Regions from separate parts of the Homo sapiens genome. Here regions 1, 3, 4, 5, 6 and 7 are each linked to region 2. Evidence: fine-mapped expression QTL. A gene starts in region 2. Each other region holds a variant in brackets. All regions are shown on one strand. Distances are from middle to middle.

What was found. PIP is the estimated chance that this variant, and not a neighbour inherited with it, causes the effect.
Region 1: its variant is the best candidate, but not a certain one, in a credible set for the expression of RESF1 in B cells (Fairfax 2012, PIP 0.86).
Region 3: its variant is the best candidate, but not a certain one, in a credible set for the expression of RESF1 in whole blood (TOPMed, PIP 0.68).
Region 4: its variant is the best candidate, but not a certain one, in a credible set for the expression of RESF1 in whole blood (INTERVAL, PIP 0.79).
Region 5: its variant is the best candidate, but not a certain one, in a credible set for the expression of RESF1 in whole blood (TOPMed, PIP 0.90).
Region 6: its variant is the best candidate, but not a certain one, in a credible set for the expression of RESF1 in whole blood (TOPMed, PIP 0.68).
Region 7: its variant is the best candidate, but not a certain one, in a credible set for the expression of RESF1 in NK cells (Gilchrist 2021, PIP 0.79).

What each region holds. Positions count from the first base shown.
Region 1 is chr12:31,990,802-31,995,076 of GRCh38, reverse strand. It overlaps RESF1 (retroelement silencing factor 1), which reads right to left. Exons shown (of 6, transcript NM_018169.4): 6 at 1,970-2,699. The coding sequence ends at 2,542. Among named protein-coding and RNA genes, the nearest start is that of RESF1, 34 kb to the right of the region's middle. RefSeq lists a silencer at 1,025-1,189. The variant T/C (reference allele first, on the strand shown) is at 2,355.
Region 2 is chr12:31,956,671-31,961,271 of GRCh38, reverse strand. It overlaps RESF1 (retroelement silencing factor 1), which reads right to left and starts at 1,857. Exons shown (of 6, transcript NM_018169.4): 1 at 1,781-1,857; 2 at 401-495. It overlaps LOC105369725 (a long non-coding RNA gene), which reads left to right and starts at 1,968. Exons shown (of 2, transcript XR_931503.2): 1 at 1,968-2,144; 2 at 2,468-2,779. RefSeq lists a silencer at 1,547-1,886 and enhancers at 2,939-3,732, 3,736-4,235.
Region 3 is chr12:31,645,737-31,650,337 of GRCh38, reverse strand. The region is part of intron 1 of LOC124902913 (a long non-coding RNA gene); the gene reads left to right. It also overlaps a transcript of ETFBKMT not described here. Among named protein-coding and RNA genes, the nearest start is that of ETFBKMT, 12 kb to the left of the region's middle. The variant T/G (reference allele first, on the strand shown) is at 2,478.
Region 4 is chr12:31,409,434-31,414,034 of GRCh38, reverse strand. DENND5B (DENN domain containing 5B) reads left to right here. Exons shown (of 21, transcript NM_144973.4): 13 at 471-599. Among named protein-coding and RNA genes, the nearest start is that of LINC02387, 42 kb to the right of the region's middle. The variant G/A (reference allele first, on the strand shown) is at 2,630.
Region 5 is chr12:31,740,498-31,745,098 of GRCh38, reverse strand. No RefSeq gene overlaps it. Among named protein-coding and RNA genes, the nearest start is that of AMN1-AS1, 14 kb to the right of the region's middle. RefSeq lists a silencer at 1,923-2,012. The variant C/G (reference allele first, on the strand shown) is at 2,020.
Region 6 is chr12:31,979,092-31,983,692 of GRCh38, reverse strand. It overlaps RESF1 (retroelement silencing factor 1), which reads right to left. Exons shown (of 6, transcript NM_018169.4): 4 at 1-2,815. The coding sequence starts at 2,737. Among named protein-coding and RNA genes, the nearest start is that of RESF1, 22 kb to the right of the region's middle. The variant A/G (reference allele first, on the strand shown) is at 1,989.
Region 7 is chr12:31,704,408-31,709,008 of GRCh38, reverse strand. All of the region lies in intron 2 of AMN1 (antagonist of mitotic exit network 1 homolog), which reads left to right. Among named protein-coding and RNA genes, the nearest start is that of AMN1, 22 kb to the left of the region's middle. The variant G/TG (reference allele first, on the strand shown) is at 2,698.

The DNA.
Region 1 (4,275 bases), 34 kb before region 2:
ACATGGTGAAACTCTGTCTCTACTAAAAATACTTTAGCAAGGCATGGTGGTGTGTGCCTGTAATCCCAGCTACTCGGGAGGCTGAAGCAAAATTGCTGGAGCCCAGGAGGCGGAAGTTGCAGTGAGTGGAGATCGTGCTACTGCACTCCAGCCTGGGCAAAAGAATGAGACTCCATTTAAAAAAAAAAAAAAAAATCACCTAGAGATGTATTTCTCAGAACATATCCCTGTCATTAAATGACAGAGGACCGTAGTTGTTTCCTAAAGGTTGGTTGTAATATGAAAGCTAAAAGCACAAAAAATTGCAATGTTTCATTAAAATCCATTGGTCTACCTTGTACATAGTTTTCAAATGAAAATTTTATATATATATATACAACATTAAGATTTTATAAAAATAACCAACATGCTCTGGGCGTGGTAGCTCACATCTGTAATCCCAGGACTTTGGGAGGCCAAGGCCAAAGGATTACTTGAGCCCAGGAGTTCAAGACCAGTCTGGACAACAGGGTAGAATCTCATGTCTCCAAAAATGTATGTATTTTTAAATTATGTGCTCAGGGTTGGGCAAGATGGCTCACGCCTGTAATCCCAGCACTTTGGGAGGCTGAGGCAGGCAGATCACGAGGTCAGGAGTTCAAGACCATCCTGACGACCAACATGGTGAAACCCCGTCTCTACTAAAAATACAAAAATTAGCTGGGCGTGGTGGCGGGCACCTGTGATTCCAGCTATTCGGCAGGAGAATCCTTGAACCCGGGAGGCGGAGGTTGCAATGAGCCAAGATGGCGTCACTGCACTCCAGCCTTGGCGACAGAGCAAGCCTCCGTCTCAAAAAAAAACAAACAGGCTGGACCCAGTAGCTCATGCTTGTAATCCCAGCACTTTGGGAAGCTGGGGTGGGCGGATCACCTGAGGTCAGGAGTTCGAGACCAGCCTGACCAACACGGTGAAACCCCATCTATACTAAAAATACAAAAATTAGCTGGGCGTGGTGGCGGGCGCCTGTAATCCCAGCTACTCTGGAGGCTGAGGCAGGAGAATCGCTTGAACCCGGGAGGCGGAGGTTGCAGTGAGCCCAGATCGCGCAATTGCACTCCAGCCTGGGTAACAGGGCGGGAGTACGTCTCAAAGAACAAACAAAAAAACCACAAAAATTCTCCAAACATTAAGAAACAAAAACAAACAAACAAAAAAACAAAATTATGTGCTCACTTTGGCAGCACACTAGAATACAAAGATTAGCAAATTAAATAATTTTTTTTTAAATTAGCCAGGTGTATTAGCACACTGTAGTCCCAGCTACTCATGAGGCAGAGACGGGAAGATTATTTAAACCCAGGAGCAGTGATTGCAGTGAACATTCATCCTACACCGCAGTACTCCAGCCTTGACGACAGAGTGAGACCCTGTCTCAAAACAAAAACTCCAACCCTTTTCTCGTAGTCATAAAGTAAAACTAGAAATAAAGTTATATCTTGCCTTCCAGTTTCTTGAAATTTCCTGAACCTAGTAAATTTTTTTGTGTTCTCATGTGAACGCAATCTAAAAATACCTACTGGCACAACTGCTGTGACATTTCAGCTTTTTTTTTTTTTTTTTTTTGAGAAGGAGTCTGGCTCTGTCGCCCAGGCTGGAGTGCAGTGGCGCGATCTCGGCGCACTGCAAGCTCTGCCTCCCGGGTTCACGCCATTCTCCTGCCTCAGCCTCCCGAGTAGCTGGGACTACAGGTGCCTCCCACCTTGTCCTGGTAATTTTTTGTATTTTTTTTTAAGTAGAGACGGCGTTTCACCGTGTTAGCCAGGATGGTCTCCATCTCCTGACCTTGTGATCCGCCCGCCTCAGCCTCCCAAGGTGCTGTGATTACAGGCATAAGCCACCTCGCATTTCAGCTTTTGAAAGCACTTTCCAAAATGCGTCCTTTTAAAGGTAGGAAACCAAAAAGAAACTGAGCTGTGAAGGTTTCAAATTAGTTTTTTAAAAAATAAATGTTTATTTCAAGTATGAAAAGTAATGTTTAAACGTTGTCCCAAAATTGTGTTCAGTTTCACAAGTATAAAATAAGACTTCTGAAAAAAAGTTTACAATTAGTTATAAAACACTTAAGAATATATTTTGACATTCACATCACAGTGGGCATTTTTGAAAAATAAATTTTGCTAATATAGCTTAGAAACCAAAACATATTTACAGTCCCATTTAAATAAACAAGTCCTTAACTGAGGAACGGTCCTCCCTCAAGATGGGTAGAATTTCAAATTGATTTGTATAAGCATTCCTTTTAAAATAATGGTAAATCTGGTTCAATAAAGTAGAAATTCAAATACCTTGTTTCCCCGGTGAATACCATCCAT[T/C]TCTTACACATGGCTACCCAAAGTTCTCAAGCCATTTTAATTAAGCACTTTCAATGAAATACAATGAAAGTGGGAACCAAACTCTGAGAAATCTTTATCATGGCATTTCTCATTAGTTTCAGCGAAATATTTTGAACAGAAAAGGAAAGAAATTTCCCAGTGGCAATTACAAAACCACATCTTGTAATTATTTTACAGGACTGCTACCAAGGCTTCTGCTTCTCTTCTCCAGGTACATCTGTTTGTAGGTTTGAAACATTTCTTTTGAATCTTTTACTGGGTTTTGTAGCATCTCAAATCCATCTGCACTGAAGCTTCTCTTCGAGAGTCTTGAATTAACATTATCTAAGGGAAATAAAAACTTTACTTACTTTATTTCTCAATGTTAGCTGTGATCAATATATAATCAAAATTCAGAGGGAAAATATATATTGGAGGGATAAAAAATTAAGGCAAGGAGTTAAGCAAAAGTTTCAGAACCATAGCTCTTCACTTATAGAATTGTAAGTTATATACACGTGACATCTTGCCTTTCTTTTGGGGGCTGTTTTCTACTCCTGCCTCCTTGCCCCATCCTCATTGCCCTGGGCTGTTCTGTTCTACCTTACTCTTGGCTCAATAAAATGTATCATTGCATATCATTAGTATGAATGTGATCTTTTAAACAGCTATGTAAATTAGCAATACAAAGAGTACAAATATGAGTCAGTCCCAAACAATACATGAAAAGGATAGGTTTCATATTTTGGTCTTGCCATGTATTGGATATTCTAAAACATGTCTATAGTTTCCTGTTTCTTGAGACCATTTCAGTGTTACATTAGCTTCAGTGTCCTTTTTTCATAATGACCCATCACCTATTGAAAATATGTTGAGGCTGGGTATGGTGGTTCACGCCTGTAATCCCAGCACTCTGGGAGGCCAAGGCAAGCAGATCACATGAAGCCAGTTCAAGACCAGCCTGGCCAACATGGCGAAACCCTGTTTTGACTAAAAATACAAAAATTAGCTGGGCAGAGGTTGCAGTGAGCCGATATCACACGACTGCACTCCAGCCTGGGTGACAGAGCGAGACTGTCTCAAAAAACAAACAAACAAACAAACAAACAGAATTGCTGTATGGGTATGCGAAATACACTTTCTACTGAATGTGTATCACTTTCATACCATCACAGTCAAGAAATCCTAAGTCAAACCACTGCCAAGTCAGGGACTATCTGTACATTTCATTCCTGCTGCAGCTATTTTCTTCTGAATAATGGGGTCTTGTTTTGTCTTTTTCTACCTGAATGGGTGGAGTATTCTGTCCTGTTAGTTCTTTAGATCTGCTGCAGTCTTCCACTTTTTCGTTTGCTTTCTTTCAGAATTAGTAACACTGAAGCCCCAGATGGGTCTCTAAGTTGCTTTCCAAGAAATTCTTGTCATTTCCTCTTCATCTCTTTACCCTAACTTAGGACTTCAAGTTTGCTGCAACCTTTGCTACTGAATTTAGACATCTGTTTCTCCTGTGGGTTTTTTTTTTTTTGAGACAGGGTCTTGGCTCTGTTGCCCAGGCTGGAGTGCAGTGCTGCATCAGGGCTTATTGCAGCCTCAACTCCTGGGCTCAGGTGATCCTCCTTCCTCAGTCTGCCAAGCAGCTGGGACCACAGGTGCGCACCACTATGCCCAGCTAATTTTTTAAAAAGTTATTTGTAGAGATGGGATCTCCTGATGTTGCCGAAGCTGGTCTCAAACTCCTGGGCTCAAGCCATCCTCCGGCCTTGACCTCCCAAGTGCTGGGATGACACACATGGGCCCCACACCAGGCCAGATGTATGTTTCTTTATAGCAGATTGGGAGTTCATGGCATTTTTCTCTCACTTCATAGTTGGTTCACTGTTCTCCAGCCTCTTTGTCTAAGGTATATAATTCACTATTTCCC
Region 2 (4,601 bases):
TGATCACTTTGGCTGCACGGGAAGCATCCTCCCAGAGTGGTGCTCTGCGCCACATTCCCCTATGTGCCACCAACAGTAATAAAATATAATAAAAACAATCAAATAAACACAGCACAGACAGAAGCAGACCTCTGCCCAGGTAACTTCCACCACAATTCCCTTACCAAAGACCTCTTTCCTTATTTTGCTAAGATTAACAACTGATTTTTCAGTACTATGCCAACAACATTTCTTCTCAAGCTTTGCTGTCAATTCCATTGTGACCCACAGTTTAATTTAAAACCGATGTTGATTCACTGAGCTAGTAATTTTATTCGGTAATAGGTGAATTACTCCATAGTTGAGTGTGAATAACCGCCTGGTTAAATCAGGGCGGGTTTCTTAGAGGTGATACACTTACCGTTGAGCACAACTTTACTCTTTAATTATCGTGTACATTCCCATTTCCCTCCAAACACGTCAGTCCCTCTCCACACAGTGTTTACTTCTTTGGTCCTAGGGACAGCAAGAAACATTTTATAATAAAAGAGCACATGCTAATGTGTTTACTAGATATGACACTGCTGTGCAAAACTGTTTTCTTTTATGGCTGCACTGAAAGCATGCTAAGTTTACTGAATTCTTATTAAGTGTCCTAAGTAACAGAAATAGAAACTAGGTCTGGCCTGAAAATACCATTCACTTAAGTTAGAATTTATGTGCGCTCCTCTAGGTCCGCTATTGTAGTATCACTGCAAAACAATAATACTTTATCTCTGCACTTGTCTTTATTGGATTAATATTAAACAGAAAAAAATCCGACTGCACAGGGGAAAAAACCTAAAACCTTAACATGCATGCACATTAACAGTGACTGAAACATGATTAAAGCTAACACATTTAGCAGAAAAATGCAATCCCCAAACAAGCTCTGCGGCCCGCCTACTGAAATGCACCCGCCCGCCACTAAATGAAAATGCGCCTCAAGCTCATACACATCCTTATGTTAAGACAGTATGCACTCGATGTACTACAAATAAATTGTTTTCACGGAAATGATTCCCCGAAAGTTTGCTGCTGAACTCAGGACCCTAAGGACGTTTGCTTAGGGAATCCGTGTCCCTCGAGAACACCTAAGATGGGTATGCGTTTGTGCATTTAAAAATGCCTCAAGGAACTATTGCTGAGGAACAGAAACCATCGCCGGCGCAGAAGCGTTCGCGGACCACTTGGAGATAGATGCCAGTACAGCAATTCTGTTCCAGGAGGCTTCGGCTTAAGAGGGCCGGGGAGGAGGAGAACCCTCGGGAAATAGCAAAAAAAAAAAAAGATTTTTCTTTTTCACTCCAGCGACAGGAAAGCCTTAAAAACATAAGCAGCTCTCATACCCACCCGCCTCACCAGCCGCGCCTCGCAGTTCGACAAAATGCGTCCTAGCCTTCGCCACTCGCGACCTCTACCGCGCAGAGCCAGGCAATGAGGGAAAACAGCCAGCGAGGCCCGCCCTCCGGTGCAAGGCTCGGCATCCGCGGAGGCCCAGGGCCGGCCCCGGTGCGGCGGGCAGAAGCAAGCGCGGCGGCCCGGCCCAGCTCCGGTGGGCGGACGGCGGGACGCGCGAGCCGGCGGGGCCCGAGGCCCGGGTTCCGGGGCCGCCCGCGACTGCGTCTTTGCCGCAGAACAAAAGCGCTCTGCGCCGCGCGCAGGCCCGGACCGCGAGTGCCTCTGGCTCCCGGCTCCCGGCCCCCGCCCCGCCCGGACCCCGGAAGGCGGAGGGACCTCGGGGTGCTCGTCTCACACTTACCGACAAAGGGAAGAGGACCACCCCGGCAAGCGGGGAGAAAACCGGCGGCCTCCCGGGCCCCAGAGTTTAAGTCAAGTGGGGTCCGCCTCCAGGGGCGGGTCGAGGAGCCAGGCCCAGGATCCAGGAACAGCTACGCTCCGCCTCACGCCCGAGGCGGTGGCTGCGAGGGCCGCGCCGCCGCGGTCCTAGTGCCACCAGAGAAGCCGCGGACCCGGCCCGCAGATAACACCCGGGCTTGCAGAGCGCTTTCATCTGCCCGACGCGGAAATCTCCTGCAGCGATCTTCTACCTTCAGCGTGCATCCGCAGCACCCAGAGGGCACGTTAAAGAGAGATTGAGAACCACCAGCAAAACTGCTGATTCAGTAGGTTTGGGGTGGGGCTGAAAAATGTGCATTTCTAACAAGTTCCTGAGACCGACTGTTGCTGCTGGCCTCAGGACCAATTTTTTCTATAAAGCGCATGGAAGTCAGAGTGCACCCAAGAGATTGTTAACCCTTAAAAAACAGAAAAAAAAAAAAGAAATCAACAAGTTAGAGGCAAATAAGTGTGAAAGAAAGTGGATAGTCTATTTGGGGATTCTGAAAGTCCCTGAGGAAAGTTGACTTTGGAGACCAGATCACGAAGCACGACCTCTTAATTGCCGACCTTTTGTTATAGATTAACTCCCTTATTTTCTTGTTCCCAGCTCAGACCAGATGGCATCTGAGATAAAATACGCATTGAATAAGATAAATGACCGCTTGACTATTACATCCTTAATGTGGAATGTTAAATAGACCCTTCCCAAAAAGAAACACTGCCTTGAACCAATCAAATTGCTATGCGTTAACCTTCTATGGAAAATGTTGACATCCTGTTAAGCTTCCCAGACCCTGCCTGTGTAAACGACCCTCAAACTTCTCCCTTTCGAAGCACTGACCCCCATCTTTTGGAGTCTGTGTCCTACCGGGTCGCCATCCTCAAACTTTGCACTCAAATAAACCAATATTTAATCATATTGCCCGAATCTCATTATTAAGGTTTACGTAAGCGTTTACTTAGTAATGAAGGTTGCAACCAGGATGGCAAATCAGAGATTGTGCCACTGGAGAGGGGCAAGGGAGCTTATGTTTATAGGAATTTATTTGTTACATAAATTGTCAGATTAGTTCATTGGTGAATTAAACGAAGAAGTCTTTAGTCATTACTAGAAGAGTGCGTTTGCGTCTGTCAGAAACAAAACAAAAAAACTACATACAGAATATTCTTTCTTTTTTGGGGGGGGGACGGAGTCACGCTCTGTCGCCCAGGCTGGAGTGCAGTGGCACGATCTCGGCTCACTGCAAGCTCCGCCTCCCAGGTTCACGCCATTCTGCTGCCTCAGCCTCCCAAGTAGCTGGGACTACAGGCGCCCGCCACCATGCCCGGCTAATTTTTTGTATTTTAGTAGAGACGGGGTTTCACCATGTTAGCCAGGATGGTCTCGATCTCCTGACCTCTTGATCCGCCCGCCTTAGCCTCCCAAAGTGCTGGGATTACAGGCATGAGCCACCGCGCCCGGCCAGAATATTCTTAAAGATTGGGGGTGGCCAGGTGTGGTGGCTCAGGCCTGTAACCCCAGCACTTTGTGTCACGCGCATCCGTGTGAAGAGACCACCAAACAAGCTTTGCGTGAGCAACAAGACTGTTTATTTCACCTGGGTGCAGGCGGGCTGAGTCCGAAAAGAGAGTCAGCAAAGGGTGGTGGGATTATCTTTAATTCTTATAGGTTTTGGGAGAGGCTCCGCGGAACAATGTTTTGCGGGCAGGGGGTGGATCTCACAAAGTACATTCTCAAGGGTGGGGAGAATTACAAAGAACCTTCTTAAGGGTGGGGGAGATTACAAAGAACCTTCTTAAGGGTGGGGAGAATTACAAAGAACCTTCTTAAGGGTGGGGGAGATTACAAAATACATTGATCTGTTAGGATGGGGCAGAAACAAATCACAATGGTGGAATGTCATCAGTTAAGGCTATTTTCGCTTCTTTTGTGGATCTTCAGTTGCTTCAGGCCATCTGGATGTATACGTGCAGGTCACAGGGGATATGATGGCTTAGCTTGGGCTCAGAGGCCTGACAGTTTGGGAGGCTGAGGTGGGTGAATCACTTGAAATCAGGAGTTTGAGACCAACGTGACCAACATGGTGAAACCCTGTTTCTACTAAAAATATAAAAATTAGCCAGGCGTGGTTGTGGGCACCTGTAATTCTCAGCTACTCGGGAGGCTGAGGCGGGAGAATTGCTTAAACCCAGGAAGCAGAGGTTGCAGTGAGCCGAGATCACGCCACTGCACTCCAGCGTGGGCCACAGAAAGAGTCTGTCTCATGAAACAAAACAAACAAAAAAAGATTGGGGATCAGGCGTGGTGGCTTATGCTTGTAATCCCAGCACTTTGGGGAGGATCACTTGAGGCCAGGAGTTTGAGAGAGCAGCCTTGCCAACATGGTGAACCCAATCTCTACAAAAAATATACAAAAAACAAAAAAAATTAGCCAGGAGTGGTGGCATGCGCCTGTAGTCCCAGCTACTTGGGAGGCTGAGATGGGGGGATCACTTGAGCTTGGGAGGCAGAGGTTGCAGTGAGCCAAGATTGAGCCACTGAACTCCGGCCTGGGTGACAGAGTAAGAGCCTGTCTCGGAAAATAATAATAATAATAATAATAATATTGAGACCAGCTTTCTTGGGTTGTGTGTTGTTGCAAAAACGGTTGTGTTAGATATGAATTCTAAATTTCTCTTCAAAGAATCAATATGTCAGTATGGTCAATCTTTGCCTTTTACTTTTAAACTTAACTTCCTCG
Region 3 (4,601 bases), 310 kb after region 2:
TTCCTGATGTTGCCACAGCATTTGTAAACTGTCATGGCACTGGTGGGAGTGTAGCAGTGAGGACGACTGGAGATCACTCTCGTTGCCATCTTGGTTTTGGTGGGTTTTGGTTGGCTTCCTTACTGCAACCTGTTTGATCAGCAAAGTCTTTACAGCGACCTCCTATCTCATTCTGTGACTAAGAATACCTTAACTTACTGGAAATGTAGCCCAGCAGGTTTCAGCCTCAGGTTAACCAGCCCCTATTCGAGATGGAGTTGCTCTGGTACAAAGGCCTCTGACAGCAGGGCTGAGTGCAGTGGCTCATGCCTGTAATCCCAGCACTTTGGGAGGCAGGTGGATCACTTGAGGCCAGGAGTTCGAGACCAACCTGGCCAATATGGCAAAACCCCACCTCTACTAAAAATACATAAATTAGCTGGGTGTGGTGGTACGTGCCTGTAATCCCAGCTACTCAGGGGGCTGAGGCAGGAGAATTGCTTGAACTTGGGAGGTGGAGGTTGCAGTAAGCTGAGATCATGCCATTGTACTTCGCTACGGAGAGAGATTCTGTCTCAAAAAAAAAAAAGAAAAGGAAAAGAACACACACATTTATCCATTAAGTTCACCATCTTTCATGGGTGCTCCAAAACAATTACAATAGAAACATCAAAGATCTATGATCACAGATCACCAGAACAGATAATCATATTAGGTTGGTGCAAAAGTAATTGTTGTTTTGGCCATTACTTTTAATATTAATGAAAAAAATTTAAATACTGTGAGGATTACCAAAATGTGACACAGAAACACGAAGTAAGCACACTCTGTTTGAAAAAAAAATGGCACCAATAGACTAGCCCGACACAGGGGTACCACAAACGTTCAATTTGTAAAATTCACAATATCTGTGAGGCACAATAAAGCCAAGCACAGTAAAAGGAGGGATGCCTGTGAGTGGAATCATATGCAGTCCTTTGTGACTGACTCTTTCATTGAGCATAATGTTTTCTTCATTCATGTTGTAGAATGAATAAGTACAGTCAGACCTCTGTATCTGTAGGTTTCACATCCGTAGATTCAACCAACCGCAGATTGAAAAAATTGGGGAAAAAAATTTGTATCTGTACTGAACAGCATGTATAGACTTTTTTTTCTTGTCATTATTTCCTAAAAATATAACAACTATCTCCAGCCTGGGCAACACGGTGAAACCCCGTCTCTACTAAAATACAAAACATTAGCCCGGCATGGTGGTGGGCGCCTGTAATCCCAGCTACTTGGGAGGCTGAGGCAGAGGTTGGCATGAGCCAATTGCACGCCACTGCACTCCAGCCTAGGTGACAAAGCGAGACTCCGTCTCCAAAAAAAATACAACTATTGGTCGGGCGTGGTGGCTCATGCCTGTAATCCCAGCACTTTGGGAGGCTGAGGCAGGCGGATCACAAGGTCAGGAGTTCAGGACCAGCCTGACCAACATGGTGAAACCCCGTCACAGGGCTGGGCGCGGTGGCTCACGCCTGTAATCCCAGCACTTTGGGAGGCCAAGGTGGGCAGATCACAAGGTCAGGAGATCGAGACCATCCTGGCTAACATGGTGAAACCCTGTCTCTACTAAAAATACAAAAACTTAGCCAGGCGTGGTGGTGGGCCCCTGTAGCCCCAGCTACCTGGGAGGCTGAGGCAGGAGAATGGCTAGAACCCGGGAGGCAGAGCTTGCAGTGAGCCGAGATTGCGCCACTGAACTCCAGCCTGGGAGACAGCGAGACTCCGTCTCAAAAAAAAAAAAAAAAAAAAAAAAGAAACCCATCTCTACTAAAAATATAAAAATTAGCTGGGCATGGTGGTCCATGCCTATAATCCCGGCTACTCAGGAGGCTGAGGCAGGAGAATCGCTTGAACCTGGGAGGCGGAGGTTGCAGTCAACTGAGATGGTGCCATTGCACTCCAGCCTGGGCAAAAGAGCGAGACTCCATCTCAAAAAAAAAAAAAAAAAAACTATTTACATCATATTCAACATTATAATCTACAGATGATTTAAAGTAATTATGCAAATACTACATCATTTTATATAAGGAACTCAAGCATCCATGGATTTTGATATCCTCAGGGGTCCTGAAACGAATCCCCTGTGGATACTGAAGGACAATTGTACTACATTCCTTTTGTGGCTAAATAATATTCCATTATGTGAATATTCAGTACTATATTGTGTTTCTCCATTCATCTGTGATAAACATTAAGGTGGTTTCCACTTTCTGGCTATTATGAATAATGCCACTATAAACATTAATGTACACATTTATGTGGAGACATATGCTTTCAATTCACTTGGGTATATACCTAGGAATGGAAGTGCTGGGTGATATAGTAACTCTATGCTCAAATTATTTAGGAATTGCCAGACTGTCTTCCAAAGTGACTGCACAATTTTACATTCTCACCAGCAATTTATGAAGGTTCCAATTTCTCCACATTCTTATCAACACTTGTTTTTT[T/G]TTTGTTTGTTTGTTTTCTTTGGTTTTGTTTTGAGATGGAGTCTCCCTCTGTCACCAAGGCTGGAGTGCAGTGGCGTGATCTTGGCTCACTGCAACCTTCGCCTCCCGGGTTCACGTGATTCTCCTGTCCCAGCTTCCCGAGTAGCTGGGATTACAGGCACCTGCCACCACACCTGGCTAATTTTTGTATTTTTAGTAGAGACGGGGTTTTGCCATGTTGGCCAGGCTGATCTCGAACTCCTGACCTCAGGTGATCCACCCGCCTCAGTCCCACAAAGTGCTGGGATTACACGCGCCCAGCCCCTAAATTACCTCTTTAAGCTTCAAAATAAGCATAGGATGTAGGTATACTATTATGACCTCTGTTTTAGAGGTAAAGAAGTGAAGTCACAGGAAGGTTCAGTAACTTGCCTGAGGGCTCATAAATAGCTGGCAGTAGAGTTGGGATGACACACATGTCGTCTGGTTCCAGAGCTGCACTTAAACACAGGACGTAGACTCGGTAATGAGAAAGAGGAAGCTATTTCAAGCACGAGCCAAAGGCAGGGATTTACAAGTTCATTGCAGAAAATAAACAGCCCAGTCTGACTACGAAGAGCACTCACCGGAGCCAGGTTGCGGGAGATGAAATGAGGATAGGGTGAGGCAGGCTGGTGGAGGGCCTGGACTGTGAGGCTTAGAGGCTTGGATTCCATTAAGAATATTAATTGGGAGTCATGGTTGGTTGGTGTGTGGTCAAGGGAACAATAAAACAAAAACAGCAGCTCAGTGGCTGTCGACATGTTAATGGCCTTTGAAAATAAAGTATACAAACAATGAGTGGCAGGAAGGCGAAAAGAAAGCTTTCTCATCACCAAGCTCAAACTACTCTGCATTATAATTACACAATATAAAAAGATGGAGGATCATGCCTGTAATCTCAGCACAAGATCCTTAGGGAGGCTAAGGTGTGAGGACTGTTTGAAGCCAGGAGTTTGAAACCAGCCTGGGCAACATAGCGAGGCTTTGTGACAAAAAATACGAAAATTCCAGCCTGGGCAACATAATGAAACCTGGTCTCTACAAAAATTGTAAGAACTAGCTGAGCATGGTGGTGCACACCTGTCATCCCAGCTACTCAGGAGGCTGAGGCAGGAGGATCACCTGAGCCCAGGAGGTTGATGCTGCAGTAGCCATGTTCAAGCCACTGCACTTTAGCTTGAAGGACAGAGCAAGATGCTGTCTCTAAGAAACAAAACGAAACAAAAAAAGGCTGGGCGAAGTGGCTCACGCCTGTAATCCCAGCACTTTGGGAGGACAGGGTGGGCAGACCACGTGACATCAGGAGGTCAAGACCAGCCTGGCCAACATGGTGAAACCCCATCTCTACTAAAAATACAAAAATGAGCTGGGCGTGGTGTCATGTGCCTGTAATCCCAGCTACTTTGGAGGCAGAGATTTGAAAATTATTTGAACCCGGGAGGTGGAGGCTGCAGTGAGCCAAGATCATGCCACTGCACTCCAGCCTGGGCGACATTGCAAGACCCTCTCTAAAACACAACAAAACAAAACAAAACAAAACAAAAGATGGAAAGATTGTAAGTTATCCTTACCAAACTTCTCTGTCCCCTTCAGACACATTTAGATGTTCACATCTATAATTAGCCATTGTCAATGGTAATGAGATTCTAACAACCGCGTATCGCCTGTGTGCAATGTGCTGTGTACAAAGTTTTTAATCTCCACAGCAACCAGTTCAGAAGAGGAAGCTGATGCTTGGGCGGGTAGGGGGAATGTTATGTCTCTTTCCTTTTCTCTGGAAAAAAACAACAACTTTCATGTCATCCAGGCTCTCTCTCATCAAACATGAATCTTCTCTACAGCATCTGAAGGCCTCTAGGATTCTTCCTATTAAGTCACATCTGCCTCTGAGCAGGGGGACAAGGCAGCGTTGCACAAAGCCTGTCTCCACCTCTCTTAGCCCACAGTGACCCCAGGAGCTAAAAGAACATCAGAGAAAAACATCACTAATATCTCAAAGATACTGAGTGCTGCTTAGAGTTGCAGTGGCAAAAATTTTTATCCATGTAAAAATGTAGTCCAGGAAAGATTAGTTTGTCTTCCCCTGCTGGACTCCAGCCTATT
Region 4 (4,601 bases), 550 kb after region 2:
AGATTTCATATTTTCCATATGTTGTCCAGTGCAACTTGAAAAGTAATTCAGTGGATTAAAGTTGTGACTGATATTTAATTATGCTATAGAACAGTTATTTTGAAAAGAAACTTGAGTATTCACCCTGTTTCATTACTTTTTTTGGAGCATCAGGAATAACCAAATTCTTATTTACAGATATCTATGAGTCTGCCACAAGGACATAATAAAGCCTGAAAGAGTGAATAAGTGTTAAATGCTTTATCTTACCACATTGTCCGTGTGCTTGTGTTGTAATGGCAATTATGATGTGAGACTAACTTCATGATTCAGATGGAACCTTCAAAGATTTAATCAACATCAATTGTATATTATCCATTGCTCCCTTTAAGTATAAACCTTTCTGTGCCCAGTACTGTTCACTCTTTACTTCTTTTCTAGTCAGGGTTATCCTTAAAATCTACATCTTTGCTGTTGCCACTATTCTTTAGGCATATTCAAAACATGAGTGAGATCAAGACTGATGTTGGACGAGCTCGGGCGTGGATAAGACTGTCTCTAGAAAAGAAGCTCTTGTCCCAGCATCTTAAGCAGTTGCTTTCTAACCAACCACTCACCAAGTAAGATACCATCTTTGATACATTTCTGTTTCTATAATCCATGTGCATACAAAACAAGTTGCATAAACTGACAAACTGGCTTCTTCAGTATGAAGTGCTGTATCCTGTGCACATGCATTCTTCTTTATCTAACAGGCGTGTGCTTTGAAAACTGTTTTGATGTAATACTTGATCGTTTTGGGGGGACACACCAAATTTAACAGCCAAAGGCCAGATTGCAGTTGGGCATGGTGGCCATTGCCTGTAATCCTAACATTTTGGGAGGCCAAGGTGGGAGGATCACTTGAGTCCAGGAATTCAAGACCAGCCTGGGTAACATGGTGAAACCCCGTCTCTACAAAAAATAAGTTAGCAGGGCATGGTGCCGCACACCTGTAGTCATGGCTATTCAGGAGGCTGAGGCAGGAGAATCACTTGAACTTGGGAGGTGGAGGTTGCAGTGAGCTGAGATCATGTCACTGCGCTCCAGTCTGGGCGACAGTGCAAGACCATCTCAAAAAAAAAAGGCCGGATTGCTCTGCCAGAATCAGGCAAAAAGCTGGCTAGTTCACACAAGCTGACAGTAACATCCAAAAGATCGGATGAATTTATATAAACCTTATATTATTTTGTATAAACCTTATATTGTAAAACCTGTATACAGGTTGTATACAGATAAAACCTGGAGTAAAAAAAGAAAGAAATAATAAAGTTCTGTGAGGAGGTCCCAGTAAAGGGCTTCTTCTGAGAGCCTTGCATTCACTAGTTTAGGGCAAGGGTTCCCAGCCCTTGGGCCATGGACCAGTACTGGTCTGTGGTCTGTTAGGAACCAGGGCTGCACAGCAGGAGATGAGCCGAGGGCAAGCAAGCATTACCGCCTAAGCTCCGCCTCCTGTCAGATCAGCAGCATTAGATTCTCAAAGGAGCATAAACCCTATTGTGAACTGCGCATGTGAGGGATCTAGGTTATGTGCTCCTTATGAGACTCTAATGACTGATGATATGAGGTGCAACAATTTTATTCTGAATCCACCTCCCCCTCCCCAGCCCCTGCGACAGCCATGGGAACATTATCTTCCATGAAACAGGTCCCTGGCGCCAAAAAGGTTGGGAACCACTGGTTTAGAGCCGGGAAACCAGTCAAGTACATGTCAATTAATTGTTAACTTTTAATTTCTTCTGTTTACTCTATCAAGAAACCCTCTTCGAGGTCAGGTGCAGTGGCTCACACCTGTAATCCCAACACTTTGGGAGGCCAAGGTGGGCAGATCACTTGAGGTCAGGAGTTCGAGACCAGCCTGGCCAACATGGCACAACCCTGTCTCTACAAAAAATAAAAAAATTAACCGGGCATGGTGGCAGGCACCTGTAATCCCAGCTACTTGGAGGCTGAATCAGGAGAATCATTTGAGCCAGTATTGGGCCACTGCACTCCAGCTTGGGCAACAGAGCGAGACCCTGTCTCAAAAAACAAAAACAAAAAAAAGAAGCTGTCTTGGATGAAATATATTGCCCTTATATTTACATTAGTGCTAATTTGAAGGCTAAGGACTTTGACTTCTAAGGAGCAAAGTTAGGCAGAGAATTCAACAAAGACCTCAAACAAGATAGCCTATTAGAGTTCCAGTGCTTTTTGTAGTTTTGTATTTGTATATATCACACTTGGATTACATACCCCCTGGAGCATTTTCAGATGAGTTTTAATGTCCAAACAGTAGGTTTGATAAAGCATGAAGTGTTGCATATAGCCTGTGAATCTGACCTTGTTTTCTTAAAACTGGCGTGGTTTTTTTTTCCAATTACAAAAAGTTATTGGCTGGGCGCAGTGGCTCACACCTGTAATCCCAGCACTTTGGGAGGCCGAGGCAGGCAGATCATGAGGTCAGGAGATCGAGACCATCCTGGCTAACATGGTGAAACCCCGTCTCTACTAAAAATACAAAAATTAGCTGGGTGTCGTGGCGCATGCCTATAATCCCAGCTACTTGGGAGGCAGAGGCAGGAGAATCACTTGAACCCAGGAGGCGGAAGTTGCAGTGAGCCGAGATCGC[G/A]CCACTGCACTCCATCCAGCCTGGTAACAAAGCGAGACTCTGTCTCAAAAAAAAAAAAAAAAAAAAAAAGGCCGGGCGTGTTGGCTCATGGCTGTAATCCTACAGTTTGGGAGGCCGAGGCGGGTGGATCACCAGAGATCAGGAGTTCGAGACTAGCCTGACCAACGTAGAGAAACCCCATCTCTACTAAAAATACAAAATTAGCCAGGCGTGGTGGCACATGCCTGTAATCCCAGCTACTTGGAGGCTGAGGCAGGAGAATCGCTTGAGCCTGGGAGACGAGAGGTTGCGGTGAGCCAAGATCGTGCCATTGCACTCTAGCCTGGGCAATAAGAGCAAAACTGTCTCAAAAAAAAAAAAAAAAAGTGATTTATGCTCATAGTGGCCAAAGTACAAAGAGGAAAATGATAATCACTTACAATCCTGCTATATAAAGAACACTAAGTATTTCACATTTTCTTCTGTACTTTTCTTCTATGCATGTTCTCTTATTAAGATACACTATATGTGCGATTCAATATCATCCTTTTTATTAGCTTAACAGTGTACCATAAACATTTCACCGTATCAGAAGAGTTTAAAATCTGAAGTCTGAATGCTTGTGTTCAAATATTGCCTTCTCTAGTTAGTGTTTGAATGACCTCGGACAAAATATTTAACTTTCCTGTATCTCTCTTTTCCCCATCTGTAAAATGACACTAGGCTGGGTGTGGTGGCTCACTCCTGTAATCCCAGCACTTTGAGAGGCCAAAGTGGGAGGATTGCTTGAGCCTGGGAGTTCAAGACCAGCCTGGGCAATATAGTGAGACCCCATCTCTACTAAAAATAAAAAATTAGTTGAGTGTGGTAGCGTGCACCTGTGGTCCCAGCAGCTTGGGAGGCTGAGGTGGGAGGCACACTCAAGCCCAGGAGGTCAAGGCTGCAGCGAGCTGTTACTGCATCGCTGCACTCCAGCAACCTGGGTTATAGAACGAGACCTCATCTCAAGAAAAATAAATAAATAAATAAATAATAAAAAGGCACTAATAGACTTACCTCATAGAGTGAGAATTAAATGTATTAATACCTATAAAACACTTGGGAAAGTGCTTAAATGTAAGTGTTTAATGAAATCTTTGCCCCATTTCATCTGTTTCTTTAGGACTGAATCCTAAAAGTAAAATTGATGAGTCAAGGGGTATGATTGGTTTAAAGTAATTGTTACCTGAATTGCTTTCCTGAAATTTTCAGTCTCACCAACTGTGAGAATGGCATTCATTTCTTCCTTGTCAACACTGGTCATCACTTTTAAGTCTTTATTAGTTTGATAGATAAAATAGATGCATTTTTTCCTTAATTATTAGGTTAAAAGTGTTTTATTAACTGTTTATATATCCATTTTTATGAATTGAAATAGAATGAATCTATTTTTTCAAGATTAAAGGTGTTTGTCTAAGAGGAGCTATTTATTTTTAGTCAAGGCTTAATGAGGGCCAGCCCCAGTGGCTCATGCCTATAATCCCAACATTTTGGGAGACTGAGGCAGGAGGATTTCTTGAGTCCAAGAGTTCAAGACCAGCCTGGGCAATATAGCGAGACCCCATCCTGGAAAAAAGACATAATGGGAAAGAAACAAAAGAAAAAAAATGGCCGGGCATGGTGGCTCATGCCTGTAATCCCAGCACTTTGGGAGGCCGAGGCAGATGGATCACCTGAGGTCAGGAGTTGGAGACCAGCCTGGCCAACATGGTGAAACCCCATCCCTACTAAAAATACAAAAATTAGCCTGGCGTGGTGGCACATGCCTGTAATCCCAGCTACTCATGAGGCTGAGGCAGGAGAATCACTTGAACCCAGGAGGCAGAGTTTGCAGTGAGCTGAGATTGCACCATTGCACTCCAGCCTGGGCAACAAGAGAGAAACTCTGTTTAAAAAAAAAAAAAAAAAAAAAAGACATAATGAAAAGTACATGATACTACTGTCTTGGTTTTTT
Region 5 (4,601 bases), 220 kb after region 2:
CATGCTTTCTGGCACTTACATGCAAGAGTTTCTCTAAGATATATAACTAGGAGAATGTAGATATCAGACTGTCTAATAAACTTGAAGATGCACAGCCTTTCTTTTCCAAAATGGTTACAACCTGTTTAATGCTCTACCAAAGGGTGAGTTTCCATTGGTATTGTCAAAGTTCCTTGAGAGTGTCAGATTGTTTTTCCTACTTTTACCATCCTAGTGGCTTGTACAGTTTTTTGGGGGGAGTTTTTTGGAGACGGAGTCTTGCTATGTTCCCCAAGCTGCAGTGCAGTGGCTATTCACAGGCATAATCATACTGCACCATAGCCTTGTTAGATATGAGTTCTAAATTTCTTTTCAAAGAATTAATGTCAGTATGTTCAATTATTTGCCTTCTACTTTTAAACTTAACTTCCTCGTAAAGCTACCTTTTTCGATTACCTACTCCACTCTGACTCATTCTGGTCACCTACTCCACCCTAACTCATTCTGATTACCTGCTACCTGCCCTGCCCTGACTCCTGCCAAAGCACACACCCTGTCATTCTCTTTAAATTAGCCAATTGGAATTAGTTTAGCCTGTGAGGTCTAACCCTAGCCAATAGGGGAACCACACAGCAGCAGGGGCCACGTGTGTCAGGGATAAGAACCCCTTCCCCTCCCTTATCCAAGTGTGCGCTCACCATTGCTCCATCTGTAAGGGCACACCCTTCTATTGAAGTACCTTGCCTTGCTGAGAATTAAAAAGAAAATTTTATATTCGAGTGCTATTTCTTTTGCGGCACCGAACCTTTATATATAACAACCTCAAACTCCTGGGCTTAAGTGATCCTCCTGCCTCAGCCTCTAAAGTAGTTGGGACTACAGGCTCCTGTTACTGCCTCTGGCTTTTGTACAAGTTTTTTTGTTGTTGTTGCTTGTTTTGTTGTTGTTGTTTTTTTTTTTAGACAGAGCCTTGCTCTGTTGCCAGGCTGGAGTACAGTGGCGCAATCTTGGCCCACTGCAACCTCCGCCTCCTGGGTTCAGGCGATTCTCCTGCCTCAGCCTCCTGAGTAGCTGGGACTACAGGCATGTGCCACCACACCCAGCTAATATTTTGTATTTTAGTAGAGATGGAGTTTCACCATGTTGGCCAGGATGGTCTCAATCTCCTGACCTCGTAATCTGCCAGCCTCGGCCTTCCAAAGTGCTGGGATTACTGGCATGAGCCACCATGCCCGGCCTTGTACAAGTTTTAACATGTGGAAGTTCGTTTTTTGTTTTGTTTTTTTGAGGCAGAGTCTTGCTAGGTCACCAGGCTGGAGTGCAGTGGCGCGATCTCGGCACACTGCAACCTCCACCTCCCAAGTTAAAGCAATTTTCTTGCCTCAGCCTCCCAAGTAGCTGGGACTACAGGTGCGTGCCACCACGCCCGGCTAATTTTTGTATTTGTAGTAGAAGCGGGGTTTCACCATGTTGGCCAAGATTGTCTCAATCTCTTGACCTCATGATCCGCCCACCTCCGCCTCTCAAAGTGCTGGGATTACAGGCGTGAGCCACTGCGCCCGGCCAACATGTGGAAGTTCGAACATGTATTTCCCTGGTTGATTAACAAGACAGAACATTTTTCATATGCTTTTGACCATTTAGATTTCCTCTGTGGGGAAGTGCCTGCTTAAGTATTTTGCTGATTTTCCAATTGTGTGTGTGTGTGTGTTTTCATCATATTGATTTGCAGTACCTTTTAAAATCTAGATACACATCCTCTTCAGTTACTTGTGTTACATATATTTTCCCCAAAATTAATCTATTAAAAATGCATATCAGATCCTGTCATGTCCTTGTTCAGAGCAACCCTCCAACATTCTCCCAATTGCACTTAGCTGTAACCAAATCTCTATGATTCTCAAGGCACTATGTGATCTAGTCCCTGCCTACCTCTCTGTCTTTATCTCCTTCCCTAAGCTTCAGCAACACTGGCCTTCTTTTCCTTCCTCAATTACGTGTGTGAGACAGACTTGCACTCCCTCTTTTGCACAGTTTGGA[C/G]AAGTGCCAGTTCTTAGTGAATGCTCAGTTGCACCTCTGCACTTCTGCAGGAAGTTGAAAGGCCCACCTGCAATGTTCATAACCTAGCTCTGATAAAATGTTTTCTGGCAGTTGTGCAAACCCAGGAAAAAAAAATTATAATGAAAATAACCCCACCCATAAAAAGGTAAGAGAAAATTAGGTAATATCTATTGCTAAGGCTTATATCCAATGGAAAAGCACCAATTTAAGTAGTAGACCAGATGTCACACATTAGGAGAATTAGTAAGTATAGAAGAAGCCCTGTAAGTCGGGTGCGGTGGCTCACACCTGTAATCCCAACACTTTGGGAGGCTGAGGCAGGAGAATCACTTGAGTCCAGGATTTCAAGACCAGCCTGGGCAATATATTAAGATCCTATCTCTACAAAAAATTACGATAAATAAAATAAGAAGAAGCCCTTCAGATGAGGCAAAGTCCCACCTAATCCTGGCTGCAGGTCTATTGAAGGCCACATATTCTGAGCAGCTTGAAGCCTAGGAAAACTGCATTCCTGGGAAAAAAACACCGATAGGAAATATCCCACCTGAAAATATAGGGTATTTCTCTATCTTCCATTAGAAGCTCGGTACTTAAGTTCCATACTGTTTTTTAGCAGATTAACAATAATTAAAGGTCTATTATGAAAATTTTTCACTGAATCTGACCCAGTCAAACCATTCTTATAATTCATATCAAGCTTGTCTTGTCTCAAGGTATTACATTACTATTCTTTTTTTAAATAGCAGCTTTATTAAGGTATGATTCATATACCATACAATTCACCCATTTAAAGTATATATTTTTAGTATATTCACAGAATTGTACAATTATCACCACAATCAATTTTAGAACATTTTCATCACCCCAAAAAGAAACTCTGTACCTCTAAGCAGTATATTTGCTCTTCCTTACCCACCCCACGGATTGCTAGTCCGCAGATTTCACAAGTCTGACAATTTCTTGGCAAATCTCAAGTAAAACATTGCCTCTCTAGAGAGACCACCTTACTACCCCTTTTAATTCTTCCTTGAATCTGTGGAGGATGGTGCTTGTTGTTTATAGTCATTCCTTCTCCCTTCCTCTTCTTTTTTAACAGAATCCTGATTTTGTTCAGGTATCAGATGGCCATGTGCTATAGGGGTATTCAGACTCATGCCCATCCTGAGGGATGAATTATGATTGATCTAAGTCATATCTCATTTCCCTTGGTAATGATTGGTTTAATCATAGCAAGTGCCATAGTACTGAGGATGCTGCTGTGAGTTCTTCTAGGCAAAGATTTTGTGTTCTTAACAAGAGAGATGTGAGAAAAATACAAGTACATGTTACCTGCCTCCAGGAACTTTAGTGTTCTCCTACCCTACCCTACAGTGTTATATTTCATTCAACAAACAACTGAGTGCTTAGTATGTGACAATGCATTGCTTATTTCTTAAACAGTGGCAAAAACAAATGCTTGAGAATCAGAAATATACTCAATTTTACTTTCTGTCTAACATGTCTAATGCCAATTCCAGCTGTCACATGCGTATTTCACAAGTAAAATGGAATAAGTCAAATAAGAGGCTCAAAGTAAAGCAATGAACTAGAATTTTCCTAACTTGCATCCTCAGTGCAAGGATGTATTGCTTGGACCTGCAGAGCCATCTTGAAAGCATGAGAGGAAAACTCAAGGGAATCACAGAGGTTCTGAGCAGGAATTATAATGTCATTAAGCCACTGAACAACCAACCCTGGAACTATCCTATTCTGACCTCCCTCCTCTTATTCTGACCTCCCTCCCTCCCCCGCTTCCTCTCTTCCTCTCTTCCTTCTCCTTCCTTCCTTTTCTCTCTCTTTTTTTTTTTTTTTTTTTTTTTGAGACAGTGTCTCACTCTGTTGTCCACTGGAGTGCAGTGGCACAGTCTTGGCTCATTGCAGCTTTGACCCCCCCCAGGCTCAAGCGATCCACTCACCTCAGCGTCCTAAGTAGCTGGGACTACAGGCATGTGCCACCACAGCTGGATATATATATATATATATTTGGAAGAGATGAGGTTTTCCCATATTGCCCAGTCTGGCATTCTGACTTTTCATGTGAGATTAAAACCTTATTTTTTTCTAGGACATAACCAAACACAATAATATTTGCAGTGGAAGGCTTTGTGGTTTGTGGTGGAAAGACTCTTAGTTGGCCCCACGATCCTTGCCTCCCCTTATGTGATCCTTTCCCCTTAGTGTGGGCAGGATCTGTGGCTCGCTTCTAACTGAAAGAAACAGTAAAGATGATGGGATGTATGTGATTGTGTGTACATGATTGGGGTCATGTTACATAAGATGGTAGCACCCATCTTTCTCCCCCTCCCCCAGTTTAGCTTTGAGGGCGCAGATGGCCATGTTAGAGGACTCTGCATGGCAAGAAATACAGGCAGCCTCTCAGAGCTGAGGGCAGCCTCCAGCCAACAGCCAACAAAAAACTTGAAGCTCTCAGTCCTACGACCTCAAGGAACTGAATTCTGCCATTAACATGAGTGAACTTGGAAGTGAGTCCTTCCCCATCTGAACCCAGGTGAGACTGCAGT
Region 6 (4,601 bases), 22 kb before region 2:
ATATCTTTGCTATTTGGGAATTGTAAGAGGTATCACCTTCAACCAGAGAACAAATATTGTCAATCTGTAATGTATCACTACTCACAACAGTACTATTCCTTGACTCCTGTGAGATTTGCTGATCGTTCATAGGAGAATGGATAGCTGACTCTAATTTGTTATGCTTTCCTTGATTGACATTAGGTGTGACTTCTGAATTACCATTAGTTGACTCATTCTGCTTTTCCTTCTGAGTTAGTGGAAAAATCTTGGTTGATGTTGCTGTACTTGCTACTGGTCCACTAACATCAACTTTCAAAGCAGCAGTTGCCTTTGCATTTTCTGCCAATTGATTTTGTAAACTACAAACACTGCCTTCTTTAATAACGGGATACACTGTTTCAGGTAACACTGCAGGTGTTATTCCTTTGACAGACAATGTTTTGACCTCTGACAGAACTAACGGTGACACTACAGCTATCTGAAGTTCTGTTCCCTTTGTTATATTTATACCTGAAGACTCATAATTGTGCATTACCATCGACAAAGCTGTCTGCTGTGAGGGATTACTTATTTTATTCTGAGAATTTGAATTTCCCACAACTGAACAAGGACTCTTAACGTGGATGTTAGCAGGCTTTGAAATTCCAACTGCTGTTGTGTTTGTTCTGAGTTTATCACACTCCTTTTCTTTTGCAGTATCTGAAGGTTGCTTTTTCCACAGGGAAAGACAGGTTGCTAGCACTTCCATGGAACAGCTACTGTCACTTTTAGCAGGCATTCCTTTTGTTGAGGATTCTTGTCCACTGCAAAAGGAGTTGTCCAAAACCCTGCCACTTACATTAGAAGTACTTGGAGTTTCCATGTTCTTCAAATTCAGTTGGTTACCAGTCATTTGGGTATTTGGATTCATTTCACAACTGTCTGGTTTAGAATCCTGAATAGTTTGATTAGCATCTTTTAATACTGTCTTCTGAGTCTTACGTGCCTGTGAAAGCAAAGCGAGAAGTAGCATATTTTCATTTTGAATTTTTGATTTATATTCCTCAGTGGACATGGACTTGGGAACAGAAATTGTTTCACAAACTGCTGGTGAATTTTGCTCAACTTTGGTAACATTTTCTGATGAAAGCTGAGTATTCAATACTGCCTGGGTCATCTCAACAGCTGATGTCTTTGAAGTGAGAACTTTCACATCATGAGATGAGTCTGGCATTGGCCGCTTTTCAGAATAGACAGGATTTGGTAAAACAGAATCAACTTGGTTAAACCTTCTGCAATTGACTTCCTGAATGTCAGAATTCAACATACATTGAGTCTTATTTGTTTCTGCAGATTCCACTACTGTTGGTGTTTGTCTCTCTGCATTCTCTGGCATTACTGGAGTTATCTGGGGTCCAGACTGGATTTTGGCAGTTTGTTTTAGAGACAATTTAGAATTCTGAGCTGGTTCACTATAAGAAGTATTAGTCATTTTAATACAACCTGCTGCCATCAAAAGATCTTTATTGATTTTAATTTTCCTTGCAAGTTCTGAAAACTTCTGTTTTATCTCTACTAATGTTTTAATATCCCTTACTAGCTTTTCTTTTGCAACACTTGTGTCCAGTACTTGATTTGAAGTTGGATTGCAAGAATCCATTATTTTCTCTTCATTAGTTTGAGCAAGAGTCTGAACACCATCCACAGAAGATCTAATGGGACTGTTAAAAGGCTGTTTGCTGTTGGTATTTACTTTCAAGTTAGTGAAATTTCCAATTGTGCTGACATTTTCATTAGGGTTTTGCCACTGCTGTTGAAAGCTGGTCCTTATTTCAGATGACAGCATTTCTCGACTCTGAGGAACTTCCATAGACAAGTGTTTAGTAATATGCTGAGTACTTTGCAAAGGCTGGCTTCCATATCTACAGTTGTAAGGAGGAGGAGGAGGTCTTTTGTCAGTTTGCGTGGCATACTGCTGTGATGGTACAGCTGAGGTCTGCCTTGATGGTAAAGTTAATACAGAATTT[A/G]GAAGCTGACTATTTTTAACTTGCAATGATGTATGTGGTATAAAGTTTTGTTTTTGAATGGTAGAATCTGGTAAAAAGCTTTGTGGTGAGTAACGGTATAGCTTTGGAGGTGGTCTGTAATCTGGGTAAGTCAGTCCCTTAGATATACACTGTTGTGTCCAATCAACCTGTTGCTCTGAAAAAGACTGGTTAAGTCCCTGATTTCCTTGGTAAGCTACAGGAAGTCGTGTAGAATTAGAAGGGATCATCTGCATTTGCATAGAATAGGTATCTGATGTTATCAGTTGACTCTGTAGTGCCGGCATATTGGGTACGTTAGCTCCAAAATCAGTTTGATGAGATACAGTTGCCCCTATATGAGAATGCACAGGATTCCTCATTGGTGAGTTCAACCATACGTTTTGGGTAACTCCTGAAGACATCTGCAAATTGTGAGTTAGTTGTTTGGGTCCATTAACATTTGCATATGTTATTCTTTCTACTGAAGTGTGTGAGGCCACAACTGTCCCATTATGCATATCAGAAACAGAAATTTGTTGAGGATAATTTTGGATATTCAGCAGTGGCTGTGAAATTGGATTTGAATTACCGGGATACATGCATGCTTCTTGGTTACTTCCAGGATAGCTGAAAGAACTCTGAGATGTTGTGGTAATTTGGTTTATTAAAGACTGGTGCAAAAAAGGTGGCTGGCTTTTAGGATACAGTGGTGGTAATGTAGCACTCTTTGGTTTTTCATTCCAATTCATTGTCGGTTTGATATAGTAGCAGTGTATTACAAGTCAGTTATAAGTCAGTTACAAGTCAGTTGTCTGAATGTCAGGAATCTGTAAGAAATAAAGATATTTTATTAAAATGCTGTTTTGCCTAGATAGAATATCTAAGAAAATTAGTAGCTGACTGTCCATCCTAATTACTGAATCTTCAGAGCAGCCTCATCTTTAATTTGGGAAGAAGAGGAGCAATAGAGGATACAACAATAAATAAGGCAAGTGTCAATGAAATTTCTAACGTGTTTAACAGAAATTCATTCCACACAATGACAGCTAGCTTTTTGTTACATTTAAATGCCAATCACCTTCTGTTTTTACTTATTTTTAACAGACTTTCTTCTAAGTAATCCATGCTAACTGCATTTTTTAAAAAAGCTAACATGACAATAAAAATGAGAATTTAAAAAAAAAGGGAAGTTCAAACATATGGTTAAAAACATTCTCATTGTTCATTCGCAAAGTCTAAACTCCCCAGGGCTATTCAAGGTTACCTTAATGAACTCAGTAAATTTCTGGCATAAGGCCGGGTGCGGTGGCTCATGCCTGTAATCCTAGCACTTTGGGAGGCAGAGGCAGGTGGATCACCTGAGGCCAAGAGTTTGAGACCAGCCTGGCTAACATGCCAAACCCCATCTTTACTAAAAATACAAAAATTAGCGGGGTGTGGTGGTGCACACCTGTAATCCCAGCTACTCAGGAGGCTGATGCACAAGAATCACTTGAACCTGGGAGGTGGAGGATACAGTAAGCCAAGATCACACCACTGCACTCTAGTCTGGGTGACAGAGTGAAGACTCTGTTTCAAAAAAAAAAAAAAAAAAAAGGAAAAGAAAATTTCTGGCATAAGCAAACACTAATTCATAAATATCTTTTGTTATTCATAATGAACTCTGTATGCACATACCTGAGTCTATGCTACTAAGGTGACTTAAAGTGGGGGCCCCTAGATACCATCAGGATACAGCTGGTGGTCACCAGGAAAACCAAGTATTAGACGGTTGGAACTTTTAGTTCTAACCACTGACCTCCATAAAGTGGTGGGGGGAGCTGGAGATTGGACTCTATAAAAAGTCTTGGCTGGGTGTGGTGGCTCATGCCTGTAATCCCAGCAGTCTGTGAGGCTGAGGCAGGAAGATCTCTTGAGCCCAGGAGTTCAAGACCAGCCTGGGAAACATAGTGAAACCCTGTCTCTACTGAAAATTAAAAAAAAAAAAAAATTACCCCGTCATGGTGGTGCATGCCCGTAGTCCCAGCCACCTACTCAGAAAACAGAAGGCAGTGTAGGGAGGATCATCTGAGCCTGGGGGTTGAGGCTGCAGTGAGCCATGGTGGCACCACTCCACTCCAGCCTGGGTGACAGAGTAAGGCTGTTTTTTTTAAAAAACAAAACTCTTGAACATTGAGATGTGATGAGCCGAGCTTCTGGGCTGGTGAACAGAACACACTGAAGTGCTGGGAAGGTAGTGACCTCAGAGAAAGCATACCTTGTTTGCTTTATAGCCAGTTGGTCAGAAGTACAAACCTGGACTTGTGACTAGCTTCAAGTGGGGGCAGTCTTGTAGGACTGAGCCCTTTAACTTGTGGGTTCTGATGGTAACATCAGGTAGACAGTGTCAGAACTGAATCAAATCACAAGCCACCCAGTTGGTATGTGGAGAGAATTGGTCAGTTGGGAAAAAATTCCCACACATCTGGTGTCAGAAGTACTGTGGGGCCAGGTGCAGTGGCTCACGCCTGTAATCCCAGCATTTTGGGAGGCCAAGGTGGGCGGATCATGAGGTCAGGAGATCGAGACCATCCTGGCTAACACAGTGAAACCCCGTCTCTACTAAAAATACAA
Region 7 (4,601 bases), 250 kb after region 2:
ACAGGGTTTCACCATGTTGCCCAGGCTGGTCTCGAACTCCGGAGCTCAAGTGATCCATCCGCCTCAGCCTCTCAAAATGCTGGGATTACAGGTGTGAGCCACCATGCCTGGCCCACATTTTAGAATATTATAAAGTATAAGGGTTTGTTTTTTTCCCTCCAGATAACCAAAATGTCCATATGTAATTATCAGAGGAACCTGCCCCCAATATTTCAATGTAGGTTCTTTCTATTTTTCCTAAGTGTCGGCTGGTCTGAGAAATAAAGAGAAAGAGTACAAAGAGAGGAATTTTACAGCTGGGCCGCCGGGGGTGACATCACATATCGGTAGGACTGTGATGCCCACCTGAGCCACAAAACCAGCAAGTTTTTATTAAGGATTTCAAAAGGGGAGGAATGTACGAACAGGGAGTAGGTCACATGCTTTAAAGGGCAAAAAGCAGAGCAAAGATCACATGCTTCTGAGGAAACAGGGCAAGGACAAAATCAGAACTCCTGATAAGGGTCTATGTTCAGCAGTGCACGTATTGTCTTGATAAACATCTTAACAGAAAACGGTTCGAGAGCAGAGAACCAGTCTGACCTCAAATTTACCAGGGCTGGGGTTTCCCAATCCTAGTAAGCCTGAGGGTACTGCAGGAGACCAGGGTGTATCTCAGTCCTTATCTCAACCGCATAGGACAGACACTCCCATAGGACAGACACTCCCAGAGTGGCCATTTATAGACCTCCCCCCAGGAATGCAATTCTTTCCCTAGGGTCTTAATATTCCTTGCTAGGAAAAGAATTTAGCAATATCTCTCCTACTTGCACGTCTGTTTATAGGCTCTCTGCAAGAAGAAAAATATGGCTCTTTTTGCCTGACCCCGCAGGCAGTCAGACCTTATGGTCGTCTTCCCTTGTTCGCTAAAATTGCTGTTATTCTGTTCTTTTTCAAGGTGCACTGATTTCATATTGTTCAAACACATGTTTTACAATCAATTTGTACAGTTAATGCAATCATCACAGTGGTCCAGAGGTGACGTACATCCTCAGTTTATGAAGATAATAGGATTAAGAGATTAAAATAAAGACAGGCATAAGAAATTATGAAAGCATTATTTGGGAAGTGATAAATGTCCATGAAATCTTCACAATTTATGTTCCTCTGCCATGGCTCCAGCTGGTCCCTCCATTTGGGGTCCCTGACTTCCCGCAACATGTAATAGTTCCTAAAACATCTTCTACCATTGTCTCAGTTACTTCTCTTGTGTCAACCAGAGTCGTGGAGACTGAAAATCCAAGCAAAAAGGTTTATTGGTGGTTTTAGAATTGAATTCAAGGAACACAGATTCCAGAGGCATCTGAAATCATGTCCTAACTATTTAATTCATATGTCCTAAGAGATATATGAGGTCTTTTAAAGAGAAAGGTGGGAGAGGGTTATCAAACAATTCATTAGTTAGAATAAGGGTTTCTAGGCAGAAGTCCTTGATTCAGGGGTTTGGAAAAAGTTCAGTCATCAGCATAGCATAGTCTTTTCAGAAGTGGCAGCAATTTCATCTGCAGCATCAGCAAGTACGTTCTACAGTCAAGCAGTTGCAGAATGACATTCAGGAACAAAATGGTGTTGTTCTGGTCAGCTCCCATTAGCCTTCCATACACACTTGTCTTCATGGTACCTGTACCCTTGACCTCCGTGTTTTCAAAAAGTTTAAAACTTTTTGATCAAGACTCACAATAAGAAATATACGTTACATTGTGACTGTAGTACACAAACCACACTTAGGTGTAACAGTATAATGTATAGTACATTTTGGTCTTTTCTATTTAATTTTATTCTATTTAGTCTTATTTTACTGAAAAAATATTGATCACAGTCTGCTAAACTGATTTTGTAATCCATTCATGGATAATGACCAGTAGTTAAAAAATCACTCTTCTCATCTATACTGTTCTTTTTTCAACTGCTATATTTTTCATATTTAATATTTCCAATTCACCTTTTTATGGTTTCGTTTTATCTTATTAATCTTTTCTTATTTCTTTTAGCATATTATTATGCTTATTAATATATTTGGCCTCTCTGTTCTAATTCCTCTGCTCCTGATGGAATCAGTAATCTTTGTTTTTCTTTTGAAATAGTGGTGCTCTCTAGATGTCTTGTTTTGGCCTGTGAACATATCTCTGTATACTCTCTGGTAGTGGTAAGAGTAAAGGAGGCCAGACCCAAGTCTGTTTCGGCCCTACTAAGCTGACATAGGGGGTGGAGGCCTGGAGAGGGGCTGGAGTGATGAGCTCCAAGGCAGAGAGCCCCAAGCACTAGAAAAAGATGGTTAATCACTCTTTGTTCTGCTAAACAGCCCGTGAGATTAGGGCTTAACCTTCAGCCTCTGATTTTAAAGGTTATTAAATAGCAGAGTAGATAATTTCCTTCGATACTACTCCTGTGTTATCTTTTGTATTTTTGCTATTTGTGTTTCAAAAAGTGAAAATGCTAGTTAGTAGTTTCTACACTACTTACATTTAAATATTGTCTTTGGGTTTGCAGCCACCACCACTCTGCAGCCATCACCATCTAGTCTGCAGAGACTAGAACTGCCAATTGCTGTTGGGGGTGAGCGGCATCTATCCAGGCTGGTGGGATGGTGGTAAAAGAATTTACCAAGACAGTTGTAGGTAAAGAAAGGCAGATTTTTTTTTTTTTTTTTTTTTTTTT[G/TG]AGACGGAGTCTTGCTGTTTCACCCAGGCTGGAGCGCAGTGGCATGATCTTGGCTCACTGCAACCTCTGCCTCCCAGGTTCACGCCATTCTCCTGCCTCAGCCTCCTGAGTAGCTGGGACTACAGGCGCCCGCCACCACACCCAGCTAATTTTTTGTATTTTTAGTAGAGACGGGGTTTCACCATGTTAGCCAGGATGGTCTCGATCTCCTGACCTTGTGATCTGCCCGCCTCAGCCTCCCAAAGTGCTGGGATTACAGGCGTGAGCCACCGCGCCCGGCCAAGAAAGGCAGATTTATTAGAGAAAATATGAAAATACATTGCAAGGGAGCAACGGGCAGAACCAGCAAGAGAGGACCCAACTGCCAGGAGACAAAGGCTTGCTGGGGATTTTATAGAATGGAACTTGGGCTGATTGACAGCACCAAGGTAGGAGGGAACTAACTTGCATCCTTCTGTCAGCCGAGGTGTTTGATGATAGATCAAAGTGTTTGGTGATAAGCAGGAGGTTTATGAGTTTTGTATGTTGTCTGCACAGGAGGGCTATATGTTCTGGGCCATAAAGAAAGGCAGACCTATAGCTTATCTGCTTCTTCTTTTTGTTTATATGTTCTGGACCATGAAGAAAGGCAGACCTGTAGCTTATTTGCTTTCCCCTTGTCCTGCCAGCCTGACTCCTTTTCCCTAATTAGGACTCCACAATTGCTCTGACTTCACTTCACCTTCTGCCTAAAGCCTGTAATCAAAAGGAAGCAAGGTCTGATGATAGCACTCCAGCATATGTTTTTCTGTGGTTTTTGCTTGTTTGTTGTTTTTTTTTTGAGACAGGGTCTCACTCTGTCACCCAGGGTAGAGTGCATAATCATGGCTCACTGCAGCCTCAACCTCCTGGGCTCAGGTGATCCTCCCACCTCAGCCTCCTGAGTAGCTAGGACTACAGGCACCCACTACCACATCCAGCTAATTTTTGTATTTTTTTTAGAGACAGGGTTTCACCATGTTGCCCAGGCTGGTCTTGAACCTCTGGGCTCAAGCAATCTGCCCACCTTGGCCTCCCAAAGATCTAGGATTATAAGTGTGAGCCACAGTGCCCAGCCTACATGCTAGAGCATGTGACTAACCCTGTGACTTTACATTGGAATTGCACTTTAACCTGTTTTTAATGTTTCTTCTGCATTAACCTGATATATCTTTATTATAATGCTTTATTTTCTTCATGTTAGCTTGCATTTGAACATAGATACCTTAGTGGTGTAGTTTGCTTGGCTCTGTGGAAGTAGAATAATATCTCCACGTTCTTATTGTTGATGGTTCTGTTGAAGTATGTAATGTTATATGTGACTCATAGATGAACCATAATGACACTGTAGAAAAATGGTGGTTTTCTTCACTTTTCCACCATCCACATTTCTTACTATCCCTTTAGCTTATCCTTCAGTGACTTAGGTTTTTGTTTGATGGCAATCCTTACCATTTTTTAAGCCTAATTTTAGCTGAATTTAAAAGGAGGGGTGAAGAGGGTGAATGAGATAGAAAAACAAGACATGATTTTTCTGGGTACTCTCCCTCTAGTCTCCATCCTTAACAAGAGTCTTGCTTATGACATTATTCAAAAAGCCAGATACAACATCCATTACAAAGTGACACACATCTTTGGATGGCTGTTTTTGAAGTATTTCATAAATCTTTTTATACTCTCTGGATGGAGAAGGCCTTTTTAAACATGATACTAAAGTTGGAAACCAAGAAAAAAAGTTGGATGGATTTGATTACATAAAAATACAGACTTCCTTATGGCAAGAAGAAAAAAAAAAAAGAAACAAAGTCAAAAACTTGGAAAAATATTTACAGTATGTATGAAAATCTAGGGGCTTTTTTATCTTGACAATATAAAGAATCCCTCCA